Regions from separate parts of the Homo sapiens genome. Here all the other regions are linked to region 1. Evidence: fine-mapped expression QTL. A gene starts in region 1. Each other region holds a variant in brackets. All regions are shown on one strand. Distances are from middle to middle.

Region 1 (8,176 bases):
GTGGCATCAGGGCAGCAGAAATAGTGGCCCCAGCCTCAATGGATGGACCGAAGGAGCCAGCCATAGCTATGAAGTTGAGGTGGGGCCCCCCAGGGAACCCTATGTTTGAGGGGGAGACACAGGCCTGCCCCGATCTAAGCAGAAAACAGCCCTTGCTATCAGGGTCAGGTCTGATGAGGAGGACAAGCCCTGCTCTTCTGAAGTCCCAGTCTGATGAAGGGCCACCAATGAGAAAACAGACAGCCCTGACCTCAGGAGGGACGGTGGGTGAAAGAACGTGAAGCAAGCTTTCTGTGTGGGGATCCCACAGCTCCTAAGAGAGCTGAGGCAAGCATGAGACAGGGGAGGTGGAACCTCAGGGACTGGGGACTGTGATCAAGGGAGAGGCAAGAGGTCTAGCCGAGGCCGGGTGCCAGGGTTCACAGATGTAATCTAATCCCAGCACTTTGGGAGGCTGAGGCTGGAGGATCACTTGAGTTCAAGAGTTCGAGACTGGCCTGGGCAACATAAAAAGACCCCCGTCTCTACAAAAAGAAATTTTGTTAGCCAAGCATCGGCCTCATGCCTGGTAATCCCAGCACTTTGGGAGGCTGCTCTGCCTCCCAGGTTCACCCCATTCTCCTGCCTCAGCCTCCCGAGTAGCTGGGACTACAGGCGCCCACCACCACGCCTGGCTAATTTTTTGTATTTTTAGTTGAGACAGGGTTTCACCGTGTTAGCCAGGATGGTCTCGATCTCCTGACCTCGTGATCCACCCGCCTCAGCATCCCAAAGTGCTGGGATTACAAGCTTGAGCCACCACGCCTGGCCTTGAATGGCTCTTGAGTCCAGGTGTTGAGAACAGCCAGGACAACATGATGAAACCCAATCTCTACAAAAAATACAAAAGTGCTGGGCACGGTGGCTCACACCTGTAATCCCAGCACTTTGGGAGGCCAAGGTGGGCAGATCACTTGAGGTCAGGAGTTCAAGACCAGCCTGGCCAACATGGTGAAACCCCATCTCTACTAAAAATACAAAAATTAGCCAGACATGGTGGAGCACACCTGTAATCCCAGCTACTTGAGAGGCTGAGGCAGGAGAATTGCTGGAACCCGGTGGGAGGAGGAGGTTGCAGTGAGCCGAGGTCATACCATTGCACTCCAGCCTGGGCAACAGAACAAGACTCCGTCTGAAAAAAAAAAAAAAAAAAAAAGCCAAGCTTGGTGACGCCACCTGTAGTCCCTGCTACTCAGGAGGCTGAGGCAGGAGATGACTTGAGCCCAAGAGGTCAAGGTTACAGGAAGCTATGATTGTGCCACTGTTCTCCAGCCTGGGCAACAGAGCGAGACCCTCAAAAAATTAAAAAATAAGGTCTATTGCCTGCAATCCCAGCACTTTGGGAGGCTGAAGCAGGCAGATTGCTTGAGGCCAGGAGTTTGAGAACAGCCTGACCAACATGGCGAAACCCCATCTCTACTAATAATACAAAAATTAGCCAGGCGTGGTGGTGCACACCTGTAATCCCAGCTACTTGGGAGGCTGAGGCAGGAGAGTCACTTGAACCCAGGAGAAGGAGATTGCAGTGAGCCGAGATCATGCCACTGCACTCCAGCCTAAGCAACAGAGTGAGACTCCCATCTCAAAAAAAAAAAAAAAAAAAAAAAAAAAGATCGGCTGGGTGCGGTGGGCTCACGCCTGTAATCCCAGCACTTTAGGAGGCCGAGGTGGGTGGATCACCTGAAGTCAGGAGTTCGAGACCAGCCTGACCAACATGGAGAAACCACATCTCTACTAAAAATACAAAATTAGCTGGGCATGGTGGCACATGTCTGTAATCCCAGCTACTCGGGAGGCTGAGGCAGGAGAATTGCTTGAACCTGGGAGGTGGAGGTTGCGGTGAGCCGAGATCATGCCATTGCAACAAGAGCGAAACTCCAGCTGGGGGTGGTGGCTCACCCTGTAATCCCACCAGCACCCTGGGAGGCCGAGGCGGGTGGATCACGAGGTCAGGAGATCGAGACTATCCTGGCTAACACAGTGAAACCCCGTCTCTACTAAAAACACAAAAAAATTAGCTGGGCATGGTGTTGGGCACCTGTAGTCCCAGCTACTCGGGAGACTGAGGCAGGAGAATGGCATGAACCCGGGAGGCGGAGCTTGCAGTGAGCCGAGATGGCGCCACTGCACTCCAGCCTGGGTGACACAGCGAGACTCCATCTCAAAAAAAAAAAAAGAGCGAAACTCAATCTCAAAAAAAAAAAAAAAGAAAGTTCTAGGCCAGGCATGGTGGCTCACACCTGTAATCCTAGCACTTTGGGAGGCAGGCAGATTGCCTGAATTTAGGAGGTTGAGGACAGCCTGGACAACATGGTGAATTTAGGAGGGTGAGAACAGCCCGGGCAACATGGTGAGATCCCATCTCTACTAAAAATACAAAAAATTAGCCAGGTATGGTGACACATGCCTGTTGTCCTAGCTGCTCGGGAGGCTGAGGCAAGAGAATCACTTGACCCCAGAGGTGGAGGTTGAAGTGAGCCGCGATCTTGCCACTTTACTCCAGCCTGGGTGACAGAGCGAGACTCTCCAAAAGAAAAAAAAAAAATAGTAAGTTCTAGCCGGGTGCGGTGGCTCACGCCTGTAATCTCAGCACTTTGGGAGGCCGAGGCGGGTGGATCACGAGGCCAGGAGATCGAGACCATGCTGGCTAACATGTGAAACCCCGTCGCTACTAAAAATACAAAAAAAAAAAAAAAATAGCTGGGCGTGGTGGCGAGCACCTGTAGTCCCAACTATTCAGGAGGCTGAGGCAGGAGAATGGCGTGAACCCGGGAGGCGGAGCTTGCAGTGAGCCGAGATCGTGCCACTGCACTCCAGCCTGGGCGACAGAGCCAGACTCTGTCTCAAAAAAAAAAAAAAAAAAAAAGTAAGTTCTAGCCAGATCTGCTGGGAGCCGGGGAACCCAGGAATATAAGTGGCTATGGGGGCCAGGGAGCCATATGACCGAGTCTCCACTGGAACTAGCCCAGGGTGCCACCAGGGAGAGTCACTCTTAGGGCTCATCAGGTCTCCCCAACAGGAAGTCTAGGGTCCCAGGGCCACCGATGTGGTAGGAACATGCCTCTGGTGAAGAGGCCTGGACCACAGATTGGGCTTGCTCTGTGGTCTTGAACATGTTGGAGGACCCAGACTCTCCCAGCCCCGGGCTCGCACTGTGAAATGACAAACCTCACCCAGCCTACTGGGGGGCACTCCTGATCGGGACTTGCTGATGTGGCCCTGGGACATGGGCAGGCTGGAGCAGGACAGCCACCTTCGTGTCTGGGGTGTGTGGTGAGGGTGCATGGGACCAGATATACCAGTCCCCTCTGGTCCCAAATGGAGGGCAGAGATGGAAGTAGGACTAGGGGTGGCTAAGAGGAGTGGGGCCATGGAGTATGGGATGTGCCTTTCACCAGCTGTGTGACTTTGAGAAGCTCACATAACCTCTCAGAGCCTCAGTTTCCCCATCTGTAAAATGGGGAGCACAATCTCTCCCTCTGGGCTCATGATGAGTTTCCAGGAATACCACCTAGTAGGCCCTCATTCCCAGGAGCCTCCTCATGCCTACATCTTGGAGGAGGTTCTCAAGATGTCTCCAGAGCGAAGGAAGAATTGGCTCAGCCTTACTGAGCATCTGGGCCTGGCATGGCAGGTGGTTGGGGGTGGGGGGAGTCACTTGGTTCCCTACATTGATGTCAGCGCCTCCTGGGAAATCGCCTTCTCACCTCTCCTGGGCCTAAAATAGAGCGGGGGGTGGGGGTGTCACAAGCTAGAGGCAGTTCCCTCATCCCCAGCAGAGGCCCTGGGTCCTTGCGGAAGCAGAGGACCCAGGAAGGGGTTTCCTGCCTCCAATCTTGTTCTTCAGCAACCTGTGGTCCCCTAGCATGGGTACCAAAAAGGTCAGGGTGGGGACTCAGCGGCCCACCCACCATGCCCTACCACACCCCACACCATCTCAGGTATCTGGCCTTCAGCACCCCTAGCAGAAGTCTGAGGTCCCAGCCCTGGTATTGGGACCCAACATCCCCAGGAGCTGGGTGGAGGGCACAGCTGGGAATGTAGGTTGGGAGGTCAAGTATTTTGCAGACAGGGCAGCCTAGTCTGACCAGAGAGGGAATGCTGGGGGGCTCCAGAGGTGTCTTCTGCTCCTAAGGATTGGGACTAGCAAGGGAGGGGGAGCCATGGGGCATGCTAGCAGCATATAAGTGACCTGGCTAGTTTATATTTTATCTAGGAGGAAGGACAGGACGCCTGTGAGAGACTCAGGAACCCAGACGGACATGCCAGCCCTTCCTGATGGTTGGAGTGACAGCGATCCCTGAAGCCCTCCTGGAGGCCGGGGCATCTTTGGCGGGGAGAAGGAGCCGATGGGAAGGGGTCTGTACCGCGGGCGTGAGAGGACTCCGCAGTGACACGACCCGTAGCGAAGGTGCAAGAAATCCCAGAGGCGTAGAGCCCGGCGTTCGCCAAGAGCCTTTGCCCACCCCAACCCCAGCTTCCACAGCCTGGGGTCAAGCGGGGCGCTCCAAGCTGGGGCTGGGGCAGCCTCTCTGGGGTACCACGACAGAGGGGCGAACGTGGGCGCCGCAGCCACGCCCCTGCCCCCGGGCCCCAGACAGGCAGTCGCCGGGTCGACCCCGGGGGTACCCCGTCCCCTGCTTCCCTCCCCTACAAATCTACGAGTCCTCGGAGATGCTCAGGCAGAGGTGGCCGAGGAGAGGCCGCGGGATAAGTACGCGGAGCGCCACCGCCCCGCACCTGCCGAGGAGACTTCGAGGTGCGAGGAGGGACCCCGGGGCGGCGCCTCTTTTGTCCTGCCGCGGCGGCGGCCCGGGCCCTGCGGGGCTGGGGGGGCCGGGGGGCGGCGGGAGAGCGGAGGGCGGGCCCTGGGCTCACGTGCTCGCTGCTCAGCTCTTAACCCGGCCCCGCCGCCCCGCCGGGATGGCCGCGGCCGGAGCGCGCTGAGCCCCGGCGCCGTCCCTGCCGCCCCCACCTCTCCGCGACCCCCGCCCGGCCCCGCGCCCCCGCCCCGGCTCCGCAGCTGGCGCCTCCCCACCCCCGTCCCTGCTCCCGCCCTCCCCGCGCCGCTGGCAGCCGCAGCCCCCGGACCGGGAGGAATGAGCGAGCCATGAGGCTGCTGCGGCGCTGGGCGTTCGCGGCTCTGCTGCTGTCGCTGCTCCCCACGCCCGGTGAGTGACCCCCGCCCGGCCCCGGCGCCCCCTCCCTGCCCCCGCCCCGGGATGTGCGGCGCTTGCTGCTGCAGCCACCTTTTCCTGCAGTGCTCGGGGTGACAGCCGGTCCGGAGCGCGGGAGGGTAGGGGAGCGGGAGAGGAGGGAAGGTGCGTCCACCCACCTGTCCCCAGCTGGCCGGGCCCACCGCGTCCCTGCCCCTGCCGCCGACCGGCCAGCTCTGCAGGTCTCTGCGGGTTTGGGCGGATGGGGGGGCAGTCGTGACGGTTGGGCGGGAGTGAAGCTCCTGGCCCCCTCCCCGCGGGCTCTTGCCTCTGCAGGGCAGCCAGATCCTCCCACCCGGATCGCCCTAGGGCTCCAGGGGCCACACCAGAGTGGGGGATGAGGCATGCCCACCCCATTCCCAAGTCTTCTGCCCCAGGGTGGGCAGCTGCCTGCAGCCATGGCCTTGTTTCCCCAGGTCTTGGGACCCAAGGTCCTGCTGGAGCTCTGCGATGGGGGGGCTTACCCCAGCTGGGAGGCCCAGGAGCCCCTGAGGTCACGGAACCCAGCCGTCTGGTTAGGGAGAGCTCCGGGGGAGAGGTCCGAAAGCAGCAGCTGGACACAAGGGTCCGCCAGGAGCCACCAGGGGGCCCGGTGAGTGGGGCTGGGTGGTGAGGCCAGGGGCTGAAGCAGGCCTCAGAGCCCCAGGAAGCCCACGGGGTAACCAGGGTTGGAGTCCCCCTCAGCAGCTGCCCCGCAGGGTCCCCTTCTGTACAGTGGGCTATCCGGTGGGTGCTGGAGCCCACTGGTGGGGAGCACCAGGCCTGCCCAGCCCCAGGGCCCCCTTCCATTATTGTAGGGTCCCCTGCCCTCAGTGTACAGGGACCACTAATGCCTAGGTCTCAGGTCTGCTTTGGGTCAGCCTTCCAATGGCCCCCTGCTCTGCTCTGGCCAAAGCTAGTTGTTCTGTTCAAAACAGGGCTTGGATGGGGCAAGTTGGGGGCAGGGAGAGGCAGCCCAGATTCCAGTCAGGGATTAGGGCTCTCAGGTTCTCACCACAGCCACCTTAGTGGGCTTTCTTGGAACAACTTAGTGCTTGCTCCTGCCTCAGTTTCCACACAGTGCCCAGATAGGCTTGTTGTTCTTCCTGTCCTGGCTGAAGGTGGGGCCTTGGAAAATAACTTGAGGCCCCAAGCCAGCTCTACCTGCCTGCCCACTGTCCCTTTCAGCTGCCAGGCCCCTCCTGCCTCCCAGAGGAAGGTTAGGCATGAAGGAGATTAATTGCAATTAATAATTAATTAATATCATGTGAATAATAATCACCCAGATGGAATATTCATTCAGCACACCCCAGCGCTCCAAGAGCTGGAGCTGAAAGTGAGCCAGGCCAACAGGGCAGCAGAGGGCAGGTTGGCTGGCAAAGGCCCGGCACAAACAGGAGGTATAGGGGGGAGACCCAGAAGAGGGGTACAACTGAGGCCTGGGAAGTTTTGGCAGCGGGGAGTGGTGGGAGGTAAATTGGGCTGGGCAGAGGGAGGAAGGAGGGAAACGGAGGCTAACATTACGGACATCTGTCAGACTGGCATCTGGCCCTGCCTAATGTACTTGGTTAAAAGCCCTTAAGGGAGGGGAGCAGAGGGGGATGCGGGGTGGTGCAGGGGTGGAGAATACTGATGAAATGGATGGAGCAGGAAGGGAGCATGCATAATAGATGGACCATCACTCAGGGCCGTGCAGAGGGGCAGGGGGAGGGGGCTAATGGTCCAAGGCCCGCAGTCACTGGGGGTGGGGTGGGGGGTGGAAGCTGCCTTCAGCAACTGCCCAGGCTCCCTGGGAGGTGTGCAGTCCTAGGGCCGGGGATGGGGTGTCCTGGCCGCTGAGTCTGGCTGTCTTGCCTGGTGTCACTCCCTACCTGTGAACTGTGCACCCCGTGGTTACACTGTGGGGGAACTGATGGTCTGCCCGACTGCTGGGACTCTGGCTTATGCTTTAAGGGATGTGCAGATTGAGTCATGGAGGGATGTCACCGCAGGGAAAGGGGACAGAGTTGAGGAAAAGCCTGGAGTCAGGTAGGGATGAAAAGTCAGGTATTCCAACTGGGCAGGTTGCTCCTTCAGCCTGACCCTTTCCGAACAGAGACAGAGGTGGCAAAGGGTAGGAGGTTCTGGGCTGTGGTGGTGTCTGCAGCTGCGTGGGAAGGTCAGGATGGGTGCAGTTGAACTGCTTGGGTTGGGGGTCTCTGTGTTGTTCTGCAGGTGAGTGAGTGCATGTGAGGTGTGTATGTGATCCACCGATTCCAGATACTTCTGAGGGGTGTCTGAGAGCCTGCGGGGAGGGAATGGAGTTCCATGGATCTGCCGGGCAGTGATTATCTCCAATTTTGGGGTCTCTCTGAGACTGAGACTTCCTAGGGCCCTCATGGCGACCTCCTCAAGGGACTTGTTTGGGGCCCTCTCTTATCTGTGCCTCAGTTTCCCCTGAGGTACCAAAGCTGTGGACTTCTATGGGCCACTCTGCCAAGCTTTGTATGCACTCTACATCACTTATTTCTCACAACTCTGTAAGGCTTGTAACTTTTGTGTGTTTATGTGTGTGTGTGATGGAGTTTTGCTCTTGTTGCCCAGGCTGGAGTGCAATGGCGTGATCTCTGCTCACCCTAACCTCCACCTCCCGGGTTCAAGCAATTCTACTGCCTCAGCCTCCCGAGTAGCTGGGATTACAGACGTGCGCCACCATGCCTGGCTAATTTTTTGTATTTTTAGTAGAGATGGGGTTTCTCCATGTTGCTCAGGCTGGTCTCGAACTTCCGACCTCAGGTGATCTGCCCACCTCGGCCTCCCAAAGTGCTGGGATTACAAGCGTGAGCCACTGCGCCTGGCAGCTTGTAACTTTTGTCAGCCCCATTTTACAGATGAGCAAACTGAGGCTCAGAGGGATGACGTAAATTGCCCAAAGTCAATCAGATCTTAAGCAGTGGAGGTGG
Region 2 (8,176 bases), 160 kb after region 1:
TGGTATGATAGGCTCTGGCTAGGAGCGCTGCAGTGTCACGAAGGCCCCCAGGGAGAGCTGGATCCCTTTGCCCTGATCCTCAGTCCCAGTCTGGAGCAACCTACAGGCCCTGGAGGAGGGGGCAGGACTCCAGTGCCCTTCCCACGAGGCCCTGCTGTACTGACCTCGAATCTGCAGGTTGGAGAAGGTCTGCACGGGAATGGTGATCCTGAAAGAAAGCAGAGGGAGAGGGCTGCCCGGGCTGCCTGGGACACCCCTAGGCTGGGTCTTGGTGCGGGGCCATCATGACAACTTGAACGCCCTTTTCCTTGCCAGGAAAGTCTAACTCCATCTCCTAGCTTTTTCCCCAGCAGCCAACGTGCTATCTGGAGTTCCAAACGTCTGCAAGGGGCTTGAGTGTTATCTGGGAGGGGCGCATGTCTATCTGAAGGAAGATGGAAAAGGGAGGGGAAAGTGGTGAAGAAAGTTCCAAGGAGGCAGAAGAGATGGGTGAGGTGAGGAGTCCAATCTTGGCTGGGAAGATGGGGAGTATGCCTCTTAGTTTGGAGGGTGACCCAAGTCCTTGGCCTTGAGGCCTAATCAATATTGGTTGAATCCATCCATCCATTCAGTCATCAAACATCTAGTGACTGCCTGCTATGTGTGAGGCAGGCACTGTGCTGGGCATTGAGGTGGGAAGGGATCTGCACACAAGGCTGAAAAAGACTCAGTCCCTGAAGGGAGCAAGATGAGCTCTACCGTGAGGCAGCAGGGAGACTTCCCCAGGGGCTGTGATGAGGGCTCACCGGTTCTCCTCGCCCTCTAGCAGCTTCCTGTAGGTGGCGATCTCGATGTCCAGGGCCAGCTTGACATTGAGCAGGTCCTGGTACTCCTGCAAGTGGCGGGCCATCTCGTCCTTGAGGCTCTGCCCCTCTTCCTCCAGCCGCGCCAGCGCCTCCTGATAACTGGCCGCCTCCCGCACGTGCCGCTCCTCCTGCTCGCGCATCTGCCTCTCCAGGGACTCGTTCTGTGGGATGGAGCCGGCCGGTCCCGCGGAGCCCCGACCCGACTTGGGGAGGTTTCGAGGCCCGGCCCCCGGCCCCAGGCCCCGCCTCTAGCCCGGGGGTAACGTTCAGGCCCCGCCCTCGACCCAGGTCCTCGTCCCTGGCCCTTCTCCCCTGGCATCTCCTGGGGTGGCCGTCCCTGCTCCGCCCGTCCCCGTCCTGCCCTGGCCGCGCTCACCGTGCCGCGCAGAGACTCCAGGTCGCAGGTCAAGGACTGCAACTGGCGCCGGTAGTCGTTGGCTTCGTGCTTGGCCTGGCGGAGCAGCTCCGCGTTGCGGGCAGCAGCGTCTGTCAGGTCTGCAAACTAGGTGGGGGACACATATGGGGGGCTGTGTGGGCCCATGGGCAGGCACGGGCTCTGGGAAATCAGGGAGGTGAGCAGCACCCCAGTTAACCCCAGGACGTTGGCCCTGGCTGGGACTTTTCCCAACAACTGTGACCCATGGATGCGGGCAGGGTAGCGGGCTGCCAGACCTCAGCACCTAGCACAACACCTGGTCAGCAAGCGAATGAATGAACAGTGCCACAGAATCCAGAACCTTCCACACTGACAGCTGCATCTGCGGGACTGAACGCTGTCGTCTTAGGCGAGCGGAGGCCTGGGTGTTTTGTGTGTTTTTGTTTTTTTGTTTTTTTTGTTTTATTTTGAGACAGAGTCTTGCTCTTGTCGCCCAGGTTGGAAGTCAGTGGCACAATCCCGGGTCACTGCAACCTCTGCCTCCCAGGTTCAAGCAATTCTCCTGCCCCAGCCACCTGAGTAGCTGGGATTACAGGCATGCGCCACTACACCCGGCTGATTTTGTATTTTTAGTAGAGACGGGGTTTCACCATGTTGACCAGGCTAGTCTTGAACTGCTGACCTCAGGTGATCCGCATGCCTCGGCCTCCCAAAGTGCTGGGATTACAGGTGTGAGCCACCTCGCCTGGCCTCACCCTGGGTTCTAATAGCCCTTTCTCCCCTGCCTGCAGGGAGGTCCTCCCAGCCCCATCGGGCCCTCACCCTGCTCAGACACCAGTGGCTTCTGCCACTCACACTCCTCAGCTAGGTGCCCTGGCTAGGCTAGCATCTTGGGGCCCTGCCTCTCTGTGCTTTTCTGCCTCCAGGCTCTGTCCTCCACTAGGAATGGCCCTCCCTTCTTCTCTTCCTGTCCACAGCGTGCCTGTCCTGCCTAGCCCAAATGCCCCCTCTACAGTGTCTTTCCTGGCTCCCACACTACATATAAGCTCTGAGCTGTGGTGTTCTCTACGGGCACTATGTTTGGGTGCACGTCAATATCACACCTTCCAGGTCAGACACCTCTCTGTGTCCTGGGGGGTGCCTGGCATATGGTAGAGGCTCAGTAACCCAAAACAGACTGGCAGAGGCATGGAATGCAGGCTCCCAAGTGAGATGTGCTAGAGTTGGAAATCCAACTCTACCACTTAGGAGCTGTGTGACTTTGAGCAAATTAGTTAACCTCTCTGGACTTCGGCTCTCTCATCTGTCAAAGAACAGCACCTACTTCATAGTAAGGTAATCCATGAAAAGCACAGGGCTTAGAACAGAACAGTATCAGCTACTACTAATAATAGCAATAGTAGCAGTAATAATAATGGGTACTTTTGAAAGCAATAGTGCCTGTGTGACCCTGGGCAAGCCATCTCACTTCTCTGGTGAAAGTCAGTCACCTGGAGAGGATATTCTCCCAGCTTCCTCCACCCTCCTTCCCCCATTCTCTTGTACAGAGCAAGAAGGGCTGCCTGGAGGAGGCAGGCTGGCCCACAGGCAGGGCTACCTTGGAGCGGTACCACTCTTCGGCTTCATGCATGTTGCTGGACGCCATTGCCTCATACTGCGTGCGGATCTCTTTCAGGGCTGCGGTGAGGTCTGGCTTGGCCACGTCAAGCTCCACATGGACCTGCTGTCGGGCCAGCTGCTCCTGGAGTTCCCGAACCTCCTGACCAGGGTGAGAGAAGCGGTACCAGGGCTCAGGGTACAGGCCACAGCTGGGGTTCCCCACGCCATTGTGTCCTCTTCTGCCTGCCCCTCGGCCAGGAGTTCGAATGCTCTCTTGTCTCTTTCCGTCTCCCTTAGTGTCTTTCTGTTTGTCTTTCATTTCCTGTCTCTACCTGCCAATCTCTGTTTCTCTCCTCTCTCTGAGTGTCTCTCTCAGTCTCAGCTTCTCTGTCTCTGTCTCTCCCTCTCTCAGTTGCAATCTCTGTGTTGAGCTTTCCTCCCTCTGCCCTGGCCTCACCTCCTCGTGGATCTTCCTCAAGAACCGGATCTCCTCCTCCAGCGACTCAATCTTCCTCTCCAGATCCAGACGGGCCAGGGTGGCTTCATCTGCTTCCTGGAGTGGCAGGAGGGGTGAGGAGTAGAGGGCCACTGGGGCCCCAGGCTCCTTCTCCCCATTCCTCAGCCTTGCCTTACCCCTCCTTCTGGGGCAGTGGGGAGCAGCACATTGCTCTGGCGGGCTGAGCTTGGGGGCTGTGTTTGGGTGGGTGGCCATCAATCCTTTCCTCCCTCCCCTGCCCCTCCCCTCCACCTCCCTGACCTGTCTATAGGCAGCCAGGTTGTTCTCGGCTTCCAGCCTCAGGTTGGTTTCATCCTGGAGCCTGGAGTGGGGGGACACATTCCTGGGTCCAGGCTCTTCTGAGGACACTTGAATACCTGCCTCAGTCTCCCTTGAGGCAGCTGTCACAGAGACCACCCCCACCCAGGACCAGTAGAGCAGCAGGAGGATTAAGGGTTGGGGGGCCTTAGACAGAGGACTTGTCTGGAGGATGAGCAGATGTGGGCTTTTGCCTTAACTCATTACTAAGGTGCCTTATCAGGGTTGGTGCACCTGCTTCTGCTCACACAGGCGCATCCACAAGCATACACTCACTGTTGCACACACACACACACACACGCACATGTCCTCCTGCACTTGAAGGCACACATGCATGTCCTGTCAGCTCAGTGAAGCGCCATGCCCCTGGGGATTCCTCTGATCCCAGGTAACCACCTTTTGAAATGAATTTTATTATGACCACCGCTTCACAGCTGTGCAAGTCAAAGTAACTTGATGGGGGTCACAAGCTGGTGGCAGGCAGTCACCTGTGCTTTGCGCCCAGACCTGCCTGCTCTTTCCCTCACTTTCTTCACCCCAGAATCCAATCTCCCTCATGGACATCAACCTTCTCCGCTTCCAACTCCTCCTTTATA[T/C]GGACACAGGCTCAGAATAGGTGAGCTCGCTGCCCACAGTCACAAAGCCCAGCCATGAATGAAACACAGGGGCCCCGCTGCTCCTGCACTGCTTTCCCCAGTAGGGAGGTGCTGAGGGGACCCTGGACTCCTGGCAGAAGGCATGCGGGCATCAGATCCCCGGGGCCCTGGGCCTGTTTCTGGTCCCTCCCATCATGTTGGGGGGCAAGGATAGTGCCCCATCAAGAGGTAGGGAGGCCCAGGGAGCAGGGAGGTTCGGCCCCTCCCTGAGACTTCTCGGGCACTCCTTCTTGGGGATTCAGCCCCTTCTGCTCACAAGGCCCCCCTTCCCCATCCCCTCCTCACTTCTGCCTCACAGTGGCCAGGTCCTGTGCCAGATTGTCCCTCTCAACCTCCAGCCGGGCGCTGTTGGCGGTGAGTTGATCGAGCCGCAGCCGCAGCTCTCGCAGCTCAGCCTGGTAGACGTCTGCCAGCTTGGTGGGCTCCTTGGCCCGCAGCTGGTTCAGCTCAGCAGCCAGCGCCTTGTTTTGCTGTTCCAGGAAGCGAACCTTCTCGATGTAGCTGGCAAAGCGGTCATTGAGCTCCATCATCTCTGCCCGCTCACTGGCCCGGGTCTCCTTGAAGCCAGCATTGAGTGCCCCAGCCAGGGAGAAATCCACCCGGGTCGGGAGTGGAGGGGGCATTCGAGCCAGGGAGAGGCGGGTGCCAGGACCCAGACGGCGGCCAGGAGCCAGGCCCCCCACCATCATCTCCCCTGAGGAGACGTAGGAGCGGCGAGCAGCGGAGGTGATGCGTCTCCTCTCCATCCTGCTCTGGCTCTGCTCGCTCCTGGGATGCGAGGGCTTTATGAAGGAGTGGGCTAGACTGGCGATGCCCGGGTGCCCCTGGCAACACCCCCTGGCATAGCCTGAGGGGGTGGGGTTGGGCCGCAGCCCAGCTATGGGGAGAGCTCCCCTCACCCCACTGAGGTCACTGTGCCCAGAGGCAGAGCTTCCTGGGCACGCCAACTCCTGCATGAGGCAGGTGGTACCTGGAGCCAGACCATGGGTCTGGGGCCCTGACCGCTGAAGCAAGAGGACCCTCTCTCTAGGAAGGTGGGTCAAGAAAGGGTTGGTTGGACCATGATGAATACTTACAATTATTATGCATCAATTAAAAAGGAAGGAAAGGGCTGAGTGGGGTGGCTCATGCTTGTAATCCCAGCACTTTGGGAGGCTGAGGCTGGAGGATTGCTTGAGCCCAGTAGGTTGAGGCTGCAGTGAGCTGTGTTTGCGCCACTCCAGCCTGGGCAACAGAGAGAGACCTTGTCTCACAAAAAAAAAAAAAAAAAAGGGAAGGAAGGGCTGTACCAGATGACCTCTGACCTGCTTTCCAACTTTTTGATTTCATAACCCAGGCATTATCTCACTCAGCTGTAAGTGCCTGCAAGGTGCTGGGAATTTGGCGAAGAATGAACCTGTTCTGTACCCTCAAGGGCCACCTCATTTCCTACTAGGCCTCATTCCCAGCAGACTCCTGGAGTCCTTCCCTTGAACACAGATGTCCCACATTCCTGCTCTCTGCCCATTCATTCCCTGGAGTTCTGGGGCTGGGGGCTGGGATTGGACACCAGCCCTTTGTCTAAGGGTCAATCATGGCCTCTATGTGGCAGTGGAGGTCCTGATAGGGCAAGAGGGGGCCGGCACTCTCTTGCCTTATCAGGACTTTAGCCCCTGGATCTGTCCCTCCAGGTCACCCCTTCCTTGTCTGGCCTCCCTGTGCCTCTCTCCCAGAGACCAGGCCTTGACAGCTCCACAAAGCCGTTACACATGAGCTGGCTGTGCTGGCTCGTCTTTATTCCTGCAGCGCCCCGTTTCCCTGGCCACCCCTCCGTCTCCCACTGGAGATTTATTTCCTCGAGTTCCCACACATCAGCCTGGAGAGATGGGAAGAACCTCTGGGGATGGATGGGTTTGGAAACGCTGGAGCCACTGGGCCCAACTAGGAGCCTGAGACCTGGGCCCTGTTGTCCCTGGAGACTTCAGGTCCATCTACGCCCTCCACTCTGGTCCCACAGGGTCAGAACCCTGCCCAGTCCCCTCACCCATTTGTGTCCTTGGACTTCTGGGAAGCAGACAGCCCTCCTCTCCCCCCCTGCCACCCACTGTCCATGCCTGGGCATCCCCTGATCCCCTTTCCTGGGCACAGGCTGAATAGAGCCTTGTTCTCCACCGCCGGTGGCGCCACACAGCAAGGGCAGCCCCTAGGGGGCTGTGCTGCTTTTATCCCAAGATGCCAGGCTGTCAGGCTGGGGTGCAATGCAAGCCCCCTGCTCAATGGGCTTCTCGGAAGGCATTTGAGGGGGGCTGGGGTGCGGCGGGAAGCAGGCACTGTGCCCACCCCGAACATTGTGTCTGTGCCAAGGTGAGTCATTCACTGGGCATGAAGAGGAGGCCCTGGGGGGCGGCCAGCCCAATGCTGCCAGGTCTGCTTGCAGACAAGGCCTGGCTGTCTGCCTCCTCCCCAGCTCACAGAGCCAGCTCAGGCCCCCGAGCCTCTGTCAGAGCAGCGTCCCCTACTCCACACCAGGATATGTTCTTTTTTTTTTTTTTTTTTTTTTTGTCTTTTGAGACAGGGTCTCACTGTTGCCCAGGCTGGAGTGCAGTGGCGCAACCACGACTCACTGCAGCCTCAACCTCCCAGCCTTAAGTGATCCCCTCACCTCAGCCTCCTGAATAGCTGGGACTACAGGTGTGTGTCACCACACGTGGCTGATTTTTTAACTTTTTTTGTAGAGATAGGGTCTTGCCATGTTGCCCAGGCTGGTCTAGAACTTCTGGGCTCAAGTGATCCTTCCACATCAGCCTCCCAAAGTGCTGGAATTACAGTTGTGCGCCACTGCGCCCAGCCCAGGGTATGCTCTGCATTTGGACATGTGATGGACAGACTGCCTCCTGAGGTCTCCCTCTGTGAGTCCCAGCACAGAGAGGGAGGTGGGAGCTCCTTAGGCTCTAGTCACATCTGACCTGGGCGTAAGCAGTGACATAGGAAAGAGCATCTTGAAGACGGGGTGAGCGCCCAGTGACCTTTGATCCTGCTATGAACTGGGGACCTGGGGAAGGACAGGAGGCTTTAAAGGAAGAGCAAGGCTGGGCATAGTGGCTCATGCCTGTAATCCGAGCACTTTGGGAGGCTGAGGTGGGCGGATCGCTTGAGTCCAGGAGTTCGAGACCAGCCTGGGCAATGTGGTGAAATTTTGTCTGTACAAAAAATACAAAAAAATTAGCCAGGTATGGTGGTGCACTACTGTGATCCCAGCTATTCGGGAGGCTGAGGTGGGAGGATCACCTGAGCCCAGGAGGTGGAGACTGCAGTAAGCCAATGTCGCATCACTGCACCCCAGCCTGGGTGACAGAGACTCTGTCTCAATAAATAAAAAAATAAAATAAAATAAACAAAATAGAAAAGGAAGACTGGGGATAAGCTCTTGTCTGAACTCTGTCTCATCTCTGTGGCTAGGAGTGGCCCGCCTTTCCAGGCTGCCCAGCAAGTCACAGCATGTAGCCTTCCCTTTTGGTTCAAGGGAAGTCTAGTTAAAATAAGGGCAAAGCTGTCCTAGAGAGAAAAGATGTGATGAGCAGGAGGTGCCTGTCATTGAAGCTCAGTGAACTGTCCCTGTGTATGTGAGACACAAGCTTGTTTCAGCATCAGCAGTTGGAGTCCCCCAGCTTTTGCCATCAGCCACCTCCGTGGACCCCTGTCATAGGCCCAGGTGCATCCTCCACCCCTTCTCAACCCTCAGACCTTTCCTCACACTCAACCCTTAACTATCTTGTTTTTGTTTTTTGAGACAGGGTCTTGCTCTGTTGCCCAGGCTAGAGTGAAGTGGTGCTATCACAGCTCACTACAGCCTCAATCTCCCTGGCTCAAGCGATCCACCCACCTCAGCCTCTCTAGTAGCTGGGAC
Region 3 (8,176 bases), 110 kb before region 1:
ATTATTCAGTGCTAAAAAGAAATGAGCTATCAAGCCATGAAAATACATAGAGGAACCCTAAATGCATATTACTAAGTAAAAGAAGCCAATCTGAAAAGTCTACACATGGTATGATTCCAATTCTATGACATTCTGTAAAAGGCAAAACTATGGAGATAGAAAAAAAAAAATCAGTGGTTGCCAGGGGTTGAGGGGGGGGAGAAATGAAGAGGCGGAGCATAGAGGATTTTTAGGGTAGTGAAACTATTCTGTATGATACCAAAATGGTGGATACATGTCACTATATACTGTTCTAGACCCATAGAAAGTACACCACCAAGAGTGGATCCTAAAGTAAACTATGGACTTTGATTGATAATGATATGTCAATGTAGGTTCATTGATGATAACATATGTACCATTCTAGTGCAGGATGCTGATATTGGGGGAGGCTGCATCTGTGAAGGGGCAGCAAATCTGTATATGAGAACTCTTTGTACTTCCCTCTCAATTTTGCCATGAACCTGAAACTGCTCTAAAAAATAAAGTCTTTTTTGGGCTGGGCACAGTGGCTCACACCTGTAATCCCAGAACTTTGGGAGGCCGAGGCAGGCGGATCACCTGAGGTCGGAAGTTCAAGACCAGCTTGACCAACATGGAGAAACCCCATCTCGACTAAAAATACAAAATTAGCTGAGTGTGGTGGTGCATACCTGTAATCCCAGCTACTCGGAAGGCTGAGGCAGGAGAATTGCTTGAACCCGGGAGGCAGAGGTTGCGGTGGGCTAAGATTGCGCCACTGCACTCCAGCCTGGGTGACAGAGAGAGACTCCATCTCAAAAAAAGAAAAGAAAAGAAAACAACATTAATTCTCACTTTTGAAGGGATAGCAGGAAGATGCATATTAATATTACAGCATCTTTGATAAAAACCAATCTATTTGGCCGGGCATGGTGGCTCATGCCTGTTACCCTAGCACTTTGGGAGGCTGAAGAAGGAAGATCCCTTGAGTCCAGGAGTCCGAGACCAGCCTAGGAATACAGTAAGACCTTGTCTCTACAATAAATACACAAAATTAGTGAGCATAGTGGCAGGCACCTATAGTTGCAGCTACTCTAGAGGCTGAAGTGGGAGGATCCCTTGAGTGCTGGAGGTCAAGGCTGCAGTGAGCCAAAAAAAAGACCAATGAATTCAAGTGTCTACCCCCTAACCCAAACAGAAGCAGACCCTAAATCTTTCAGGGTGTCATCCTAAGCTAAGTAGAAATCTAAAAGTTTCCTAGAGCACAGATAAGAGTGACCTAGCACTCCAGCCAACCAGAAAGGGAAAAGCAGAACATAAGCTTACTTTCTACAAAGGAAGCAGCTATACAAATTATGCCAGAGAACTAGAAAAACACTAATTTGAGTATCCAAAAGGGGGGAAGTAGTTCCAAATATTTCTAATAAAGAGCATTCTGTAAGCCTTCCAACAAGCTATTAAAGGTTGAGAAAACCTATCTGGCAACCCAGTTAATTTCAGGACACATAATTACAGGAACTTAGTCCCTCAAGTCAGAGATGCCTGTGAGGAATTGCACGGTTTGAATCACAGCAGATTTGCAGCCTATTTAAGTTTTTGGACCACTAGAAAACTGGAAAAACAATTCATTTAATATAGTTGAGAGAATACTTAAAAATCCTACATCAATTCAATTATATACTGACTTAGAATTATATGATTACTTCCTATGGAGGGTTAATTCCCTGGCATTTAGGTTGAGCCCCTACATATACCTTCAATTATCAAAAAAAAAATCAAAACTTTATTTGAACTCAAAGTTTTACTTATGAGAATAATGAAATCTTACTTAGATTAACACTCAAAACATTTCTTGGGGATAGGCTTTTTAAAATGAAACCCATAATTTATTTTTGTTACAAAAGGAAATGTTTACGTCCCTGTTAAAGTATAAAAAGGGTCTCATTAGTGTATCTGAAGAGTACTACATTGTACATTGTCTTCCAGAGGTGGAAAAAAAAAGAAGTTAACTTTTACATATACTTGAAAGGGAAAGTCTGCATTCTGCACTAAGTTTTCTTGAATGGAATAAGTTTAAATTGTCCTCAGTTCTAGCAAAGAATGTTCTTAAATATCTGTCTTTAAAAATCCAATAGTAGGGCCGGGTGAGGTGGCTCACGTCTGTAATCCCAGCATTTTGGGAGGCAGATGGATCATCTGAGGTCAGGAGTTCGAAAACAGCCCGGCCAACATGGTGAAAACAGCATGGCCAACATGGTGAAACCCTGTCTCCGTAAAAATACAAAAATTAGCTGGGCGTGGTGGCGGGTGCCTGTAATCCCAGCTACTTGGGAGGCTGAGGTAGGAGAATCACTTGAACCTGGGAGGTGGAGGTTGCTGCGAGCCGAGATTGCACCATTGCACTCCAGCCTGGGCAACAAGAGCAAAACTCTGTTTCAAGAGAAAAAAAAAATCCAATAGTAATTTCAGATTCACTTAAATATCCCCAAAATAGTAAGTGGAAAAAAAAGTTTTTTACTTGGGAAGCCGAGGCAGGCGGATCACAAGGTCAGGAGTTCAAGACCAGCCTGGCCAACATGGTGAAACCCCGTCTCTACTAAAAATAGAAAAATTAGCTGGGCCTGGTGGTGTGTGCCTGTAATCCCAGCTACTCAGAAGCCTGAGGCACGAGAATTGCTTGAATCTGGGAGACGGAAGTTGCAGTGAGCTGAGATCGTACCATTGCACTCCAGCCTGGGCAACAGAGTGAGACTCCAAAAAAAAAAAAAGAAAAGAAAAGAAAAAGAAAAAGTTTTTTTTACTTGAGGGCAGCATCATTCTGAATTGGATCAAAGTTACTGAAATGTAATTAATCTTATTGTATAAACATGTCTTTCGTCATTGTCCCTGTATAGAAACAATAAATGGAGAAAGAGGGTCAATAGTCTCTCCCTCCACAAAATTTTAAGTTCAGATCAAGGCAGAGAAGACATAAAACAATTATTTGAGTATTCCTAACTCTTTCTCACTTTAATCTGAGGTTTGTATATATGTCTGAGTAAGACTGGGAAACTAACCCCACCCAACCCTCAACACACACGTTGAAAATGAGATCTTCCAAAAGAGAATGAAAGAACTGAAAGAACTAACTACATATTATATACTTACTCTGTTCATAACCAAAATGTTTTCTTTGTTAATGTATTCACTCGAATTCAATAGAGTGTTAAATTTGCCAGTAATTTTTATTTCTACGACAAACCATATTAATACACGACAAGACAGTATGACTTCAAAAAATGAGCCAAGAACTTAAATAGGTATTTCTCCAAAGAAGATATACCAATAAGCACATGAAAAGATGGTCAACATCATTAGTCACTAGGGAAATGTAAGTCAAAACCACAATGAGATACCAATTCACATCCTCTAGGATAGCCATCTTTTTTAAAAAAAAATTTTTTTTGAGAGATGGGGTCTCTCATCTCTCATGCACGCCAGCATGGAGTGCAGTGTCATGATCACAGCGCACTGCAGCCTCAAACTCCTGGGCTTAAGGGATCCTCCCACTACAGGCTCCGGACTAGCTGGGACTACAGGAGCATGCCACTGTATCCAACTGGCTTTTTAAAAAAAAAAAAGAAGAAGAAAAAGAAGAAGAAGAAAGAAAACAAAACAAAAAGGCTGAGTGCAATGTCTCACACCTGTAATTCCAGCACTTTGGGAGGATTGCTTGAGGCCAGAAGTTCAAGACCAGCCTGGGCAACACAGAAAGACCCTGTTTTTACAAAAAAAAAAAAAAAAATATATATATATATATATATATATGTATGTATATATATACATATATATATATTT[T/A]TTTTTTTTTTTAAAGAAAGAAAAAGAGACTGGGTGTGGTGCCTGTAATCCCAGCACTTTGGGAGGCTGAGTGGGGAGGATCACTTGAAGCCAGGAGTTTGAGTATTCAGTAAGCTATGATCATGCCACTGTGGTCTACCAGTCTACGCTGGGCAGCAGAGCAAGATCCCATCTCTCTCTCTCAATCTCTGTGTGTGTGTGTATACATATATATATATATACACACACATACAGTAATACATATATATAGTAATTTCAGATTACCATAGATTACTATATATAGATCTATACAGGGATATATAGATATATATAGATCTATAGATATATCTCCCTGTCTATATATAGAGATAGATATATATAGATAGATATACAGAGATAGATCTCTCTATATCTATTTATATCTATCTATATGTATATCTATAGAGAGAGAAATTTTAAAAAGAAAAAATAGGCTGGGTGCAGTGGCTCACGCCTGTAATCCTAGCACTTTGGGAGGCCGAGGCAGGCGGATTGCCTGAGCTCAGGAGTTCGAGACCAGCCTGGGTAACATGGAAAAACCCTGTCTCTACTAAAAATACAAAAATTTAGCCAGGCGTGGTTGTGCGTGCCTGTAATCCCAGCTACTCGGGAGGCTGAGGCATGAAAATCCCTTGAACCTGGGAGGCAGAGGTTACAATGAACCAAGATCGTGCCACTCTACTCCAGGCTGGGTGACAGAGGGAGACTCTGTCTCAAAAAAAAAAAAAGAAAGAAAGAAAGAAAAAGAAAAAGAAAATAACAAGTGTTGGTGAGGATGTGGAGAAATGGGAACTCTCATGCATTGTTGGTGAGAATGTAAAATGGTGCAGCCACAGTGTAAAACATTTTGGAATTACTCAAGACATCGAATACAATTACCATATGTCCCAACAATACCACTCTTAGGTATATACCCAAAATAATTGGAAAAAAAATTAATCAAATACTTGTACACCAATGTTTCTAGCAGTACTACGCACAATAGTGAAAAGTTGAGAGCCAAGCGCGGTGACTCATGCCTGTAATCACTTTGAGAGGTCAAGGCAGGCAGATCACTTGAGGTCAAGAGGTCGAGAACACCCTGGCCAACATGGTGAGATCCCATTTCTATTAAAAATACAAAAATTAGGCGGGGCACGGTGGCTCAAACCTGTAATCCCAGCACTGTGGGAGGCTGAGGCAGGCGGATCACCAGAGGTCAGGAGTTCGAGGCCAGCCTGTCCAACATGGCAAAACCCTGTCTCTACTAAAAATACAAAAATCAGCCAGGCATGGTGATTCATGCCTGTAATCCCAGCTACTCAGGAGGCTGAGACAGGAGAATCACTTGAACCCAGGAGGCAGAGGTTGCAGTGAGCTGAGATCATGCCACTGCACTCCAACCTGGGTGACAGAGCAAGACTCTGTCTCAAAAAAAAAAAAAAATTAGCCAGGTTTGGTGGCACATGCCTGTAATCCCAGCTCCTGGGGAAGCTGAGGCAGGAGAATCATCTGAACGATTCCTCCGATAAGGGGGAGGTTGCAGTGAGCCAAGATTGCGCCTGCACTCCAGCCTGCAGCACAGAGCAAGACTCTGACTCAAAAAAAAAAAAAAAAGGTGGAAACCACCCATGTGTCCATAAACAGATGAATGCTTGAACAAAATGTGGTATATCCATACAATGGAACCTTAGTCAGCCATAAAAAGGAATGACATTCAGGTATATGCTATAACATGAAGGAACCTTGATGACAAGGTTTATTTTACCTTAGTAAAATAAGCCAGGCACAAAAGGATAAATATTGTATGATTCCACTTATATATGGTACCTAGAGTAGTCAAATTCATAGAGATAGAAAGTAGAATGGTGGTTGCCAGAACTGGGAGAAGGGGGCATGGGGAATAATTATTTATGGGATGCTGCAGAGTTTCTGTTTGTGATTAATGAAGTTCTGAAACTGTAGAGCGGTCATGGTTACACAACATTATGAATGTGCTTAATGCCACTTAACCAAACACTTAAAAACGACAAATCTTATGTATATTTTACTATAAAAATACATAAGGGGATTCATAGCTTTTCAAAATGCTTCTAGGGAGTATAGGAGAGGGGGAAAAAGCCAGTAGTCCTCAATGCAATGAGCCCTACACCAGCAACTTTAAGGCTGAGGCAGAGAAATGTAACTGTTAGAGCCACACCACCTGGTCAGCTTTTTTTAAGTGTGTGTGCGTGTGTGTGTGTTTGTGTGTGTGTGTGTGTGTGTGCATGCACATTTTGTTTTTCCTTTTTGTGGAGCACTATATTCCCCAGGCAAATCTCAAACTCCTGGGCTCAATCTATCCTCCTGCCTTTGCTTCCCTAAATGCTGGGATTACAGGTGTGAGTCCAGCAGCTTTTTTTCTTTTCTTTCTTCCTTTTTTTTTTTTTTTTTTTTTGAAACAGGGTCTTGCTCTGTTGCCCAGGCTGGAGTGTGATGGAGTGATTATGGCTCACTGCATCCTCCAACTCTCCAGCTCAGGCGATCCTCCCATCTCAGCCTCCCAAGTGCAGGTACCTGGGACTACAGGCACACACCACCACACCCAACTAATTGTTAATTTTTTTGTAGAGACGAAGTCTCCTTATGTTGCCCTGGCTGGGCAACTCCTGGGCTCAAGCAATCCTCCTGCCTCGGCCTCCCAAAGTGCTGGGATTACAGGCACAAGCCACTGCGCCCAGCCTTGGTGAGCTTTCTGAACTCAAAGCTGAGTAGAGACCTGAAGTAACTATCAGGACAATATGGGTCAATAAAACTCATCCTCCTACTTCCATTCGTGTCTGAGTTAAAACAGTATCTTCCACTTAAGTGCTCATTTCTCAAGTTTTGATTTTAAATATAAAAACAGCCTAAAGGTGCTTACTGTGTTTACTTCTTTTATATTTCAACTATCTGATTTTTTAGCAGTGTCTAGGGACAAAAACTAGCATTTCTCTGAGACCATCACATCCCCAATCTGACTGCTATGTGAATGGTTTGTTGGGTGCCTGGAATGGCTTGTTTATGTAAGCTCTCACCTGTAATCCCACACTTTGGGAGGCCGAGGCGGAGGATCACTTCAGGCCAAGAGTTCAGTTCAAGACCAGCCTGAGCAACATAAGGAGATCCAACCCCCTACCCCCATCCCCACCTCCAACCCCAGCTCTACAAAAAAATTAAAAAATTAGCTAGGGCCAGGCGCCGTGGCTCACGCCTGTAATCCCAGAATTTTGGGAGGCCGAGGCGGGCGGATCACGAGGTCAAGAGATCGAGACCATCCTGGACAACATGGTGAAATTCCCGTCTCTACTAAAAATACAAAAATTAGCGGGGCGTGGTGGCGTGGGCCTGTAGTCCTAGCTACTCGGGAGGCTGAGGCGGGAGAATCGCTTGAACCCGGGAGGCGGAGGTTGCAGTGAGCCTTTGCGCCACCGCACTCTAGCCTGGCGACAGTGAGACTCCATCTCACCAAAAAAAAAAAAAAAAAAAAAATTAGCTGGGAGTGGTGGCACGCGCCTGTAGCCCCAACTACTCGGGAGGCTGAGGCGGGAGGATCGCTCGAGACCAGGAGTTTGAGACCAGCCTGGGCAACATAAGGAGACCCAACCCCCCCGCCCTTCAGCTTTACAAAAAAATTAAAAAATTAGCCAGGAGTGGTGGCGCCGCGTGCCTGCAGCCCCAGCTACTCGGGAGGCTGAGGCGGGAGGGTCGCTTGAACCCGGGAGTTCAAGGCTGCAACGAGCTATGATAGCGCCACTGCACTCCAGCCTGGGCGACAGAGCAAGACCCTGTTTTACACAGACAAACAAAAACGAACAAAAAGGTCACAGCGAACTTTGTTCAAAAGTCACATTAACACTTAAATGCCTTAACCCGGACTGAAAGCCCGGGCTTAGGACACAGGGCAGCTCTCCCTCAAAAAGGGGTCTCCCAGCAACACCCAATCCACAAGTTGCTCCTCGCCCTCCCCAAACCGGTACAAGATATATCAGTCTCTGGGCAGCTCCAACGGATTCTGAAGCTACGGGAGGGACTAAGGAACAAATATGAAATGTCGGACAAATGAAATGTGCGCAACAGCTAGGTTTTGGAGGATAAGCCAGTTGCTGAGCGACTTCTCAAATCTTCCAAGTGCCTCCAACACCTCTCCCACCCGGTAGGGCTGCGCTCTTTAGCTCTTTCAACCTTCCACGACCGGCCTCTCCGCTGCCCTATCAGCAAATCATCGGGCCGGTGCCTGCCAGTCCGGGCCAATCCCGAACACATTTACTTTGAGCGGGAAAAGCTCAGAAGCGGCGAGAGAGCGTGGTCCGCTAACCGCCCC

Direction of the effects. Alleles are on the strand shown, and positions count from the first base shown. SD is a standard deviation of normalised expression in the study named. Not every link is listed here.
In carriers of allele T in region 3, the expression in skin of the gene that starts at base 4,938 in region 1 tends to be higher than with A alone (small effect, 0.33 SD a copy in TwinsUK).

Evidence for each region. PIP is the estimated chance that this variant, and not a neighbour inherited with it, causes the effect.
Region 2: its variant is fine-mapped to the expression of ADAM11 in esophagus muscle (GTEx, PIP 0.97).
Region 3: its variant is fine-mapped to the expression of ADAM11 in skin (TwinsUK, PIP 0.95).

What each region holds. Positions count from the first base shown.
Region 1 is chr17:44,754,051-44,762,226 of GRCh38, forward strand. It overlaps ADAM11 (ADAM metallopeptidase domain 11), which reads left to right and starts at 4,938. Exons shown (of 27, transcript NM_002390.6): 1 at 4,938-5,210; 2 at 5,672-5,847. The coding sequence starts at 5,150. RefSeq lists an enhancer at 4,579-5,130.
Region 2 is chr17:44,910,451-44,918,626 of GRCh38, forward strand. It overlaps GFAP (glial fibrillary acidic protein), which reads right to left and starts at 5,050. Exons shown (of 9, transcript NM_002055.5): 1 at 4,576-5,050; 2 at 3,578-3,638; 3 at 3,278-3,373; 4 at 2,819-2,980; 5 at 1,222-1,347; 6 at 786-1,006; 7 at 165-208. The coding sequence starts at 5,036. RefSeq lists an enhancer at 736-845 and a silencer at 1,056-1,125. The variant T/C (reference allele first, on the strand shown) is at 4,231.
Region 3 is chr17:44,648,076-44,656,251 of GRCh38, forward strand. LINC01180 (long intergenic non-protein coding RNA 1180) reads right to left here and starts at 2,274. Exons shown (of 3, transcript NR_110661.1): 1 at 693-2,274. The variant T/A (reference allele first, on the strand shown) is at 3,838.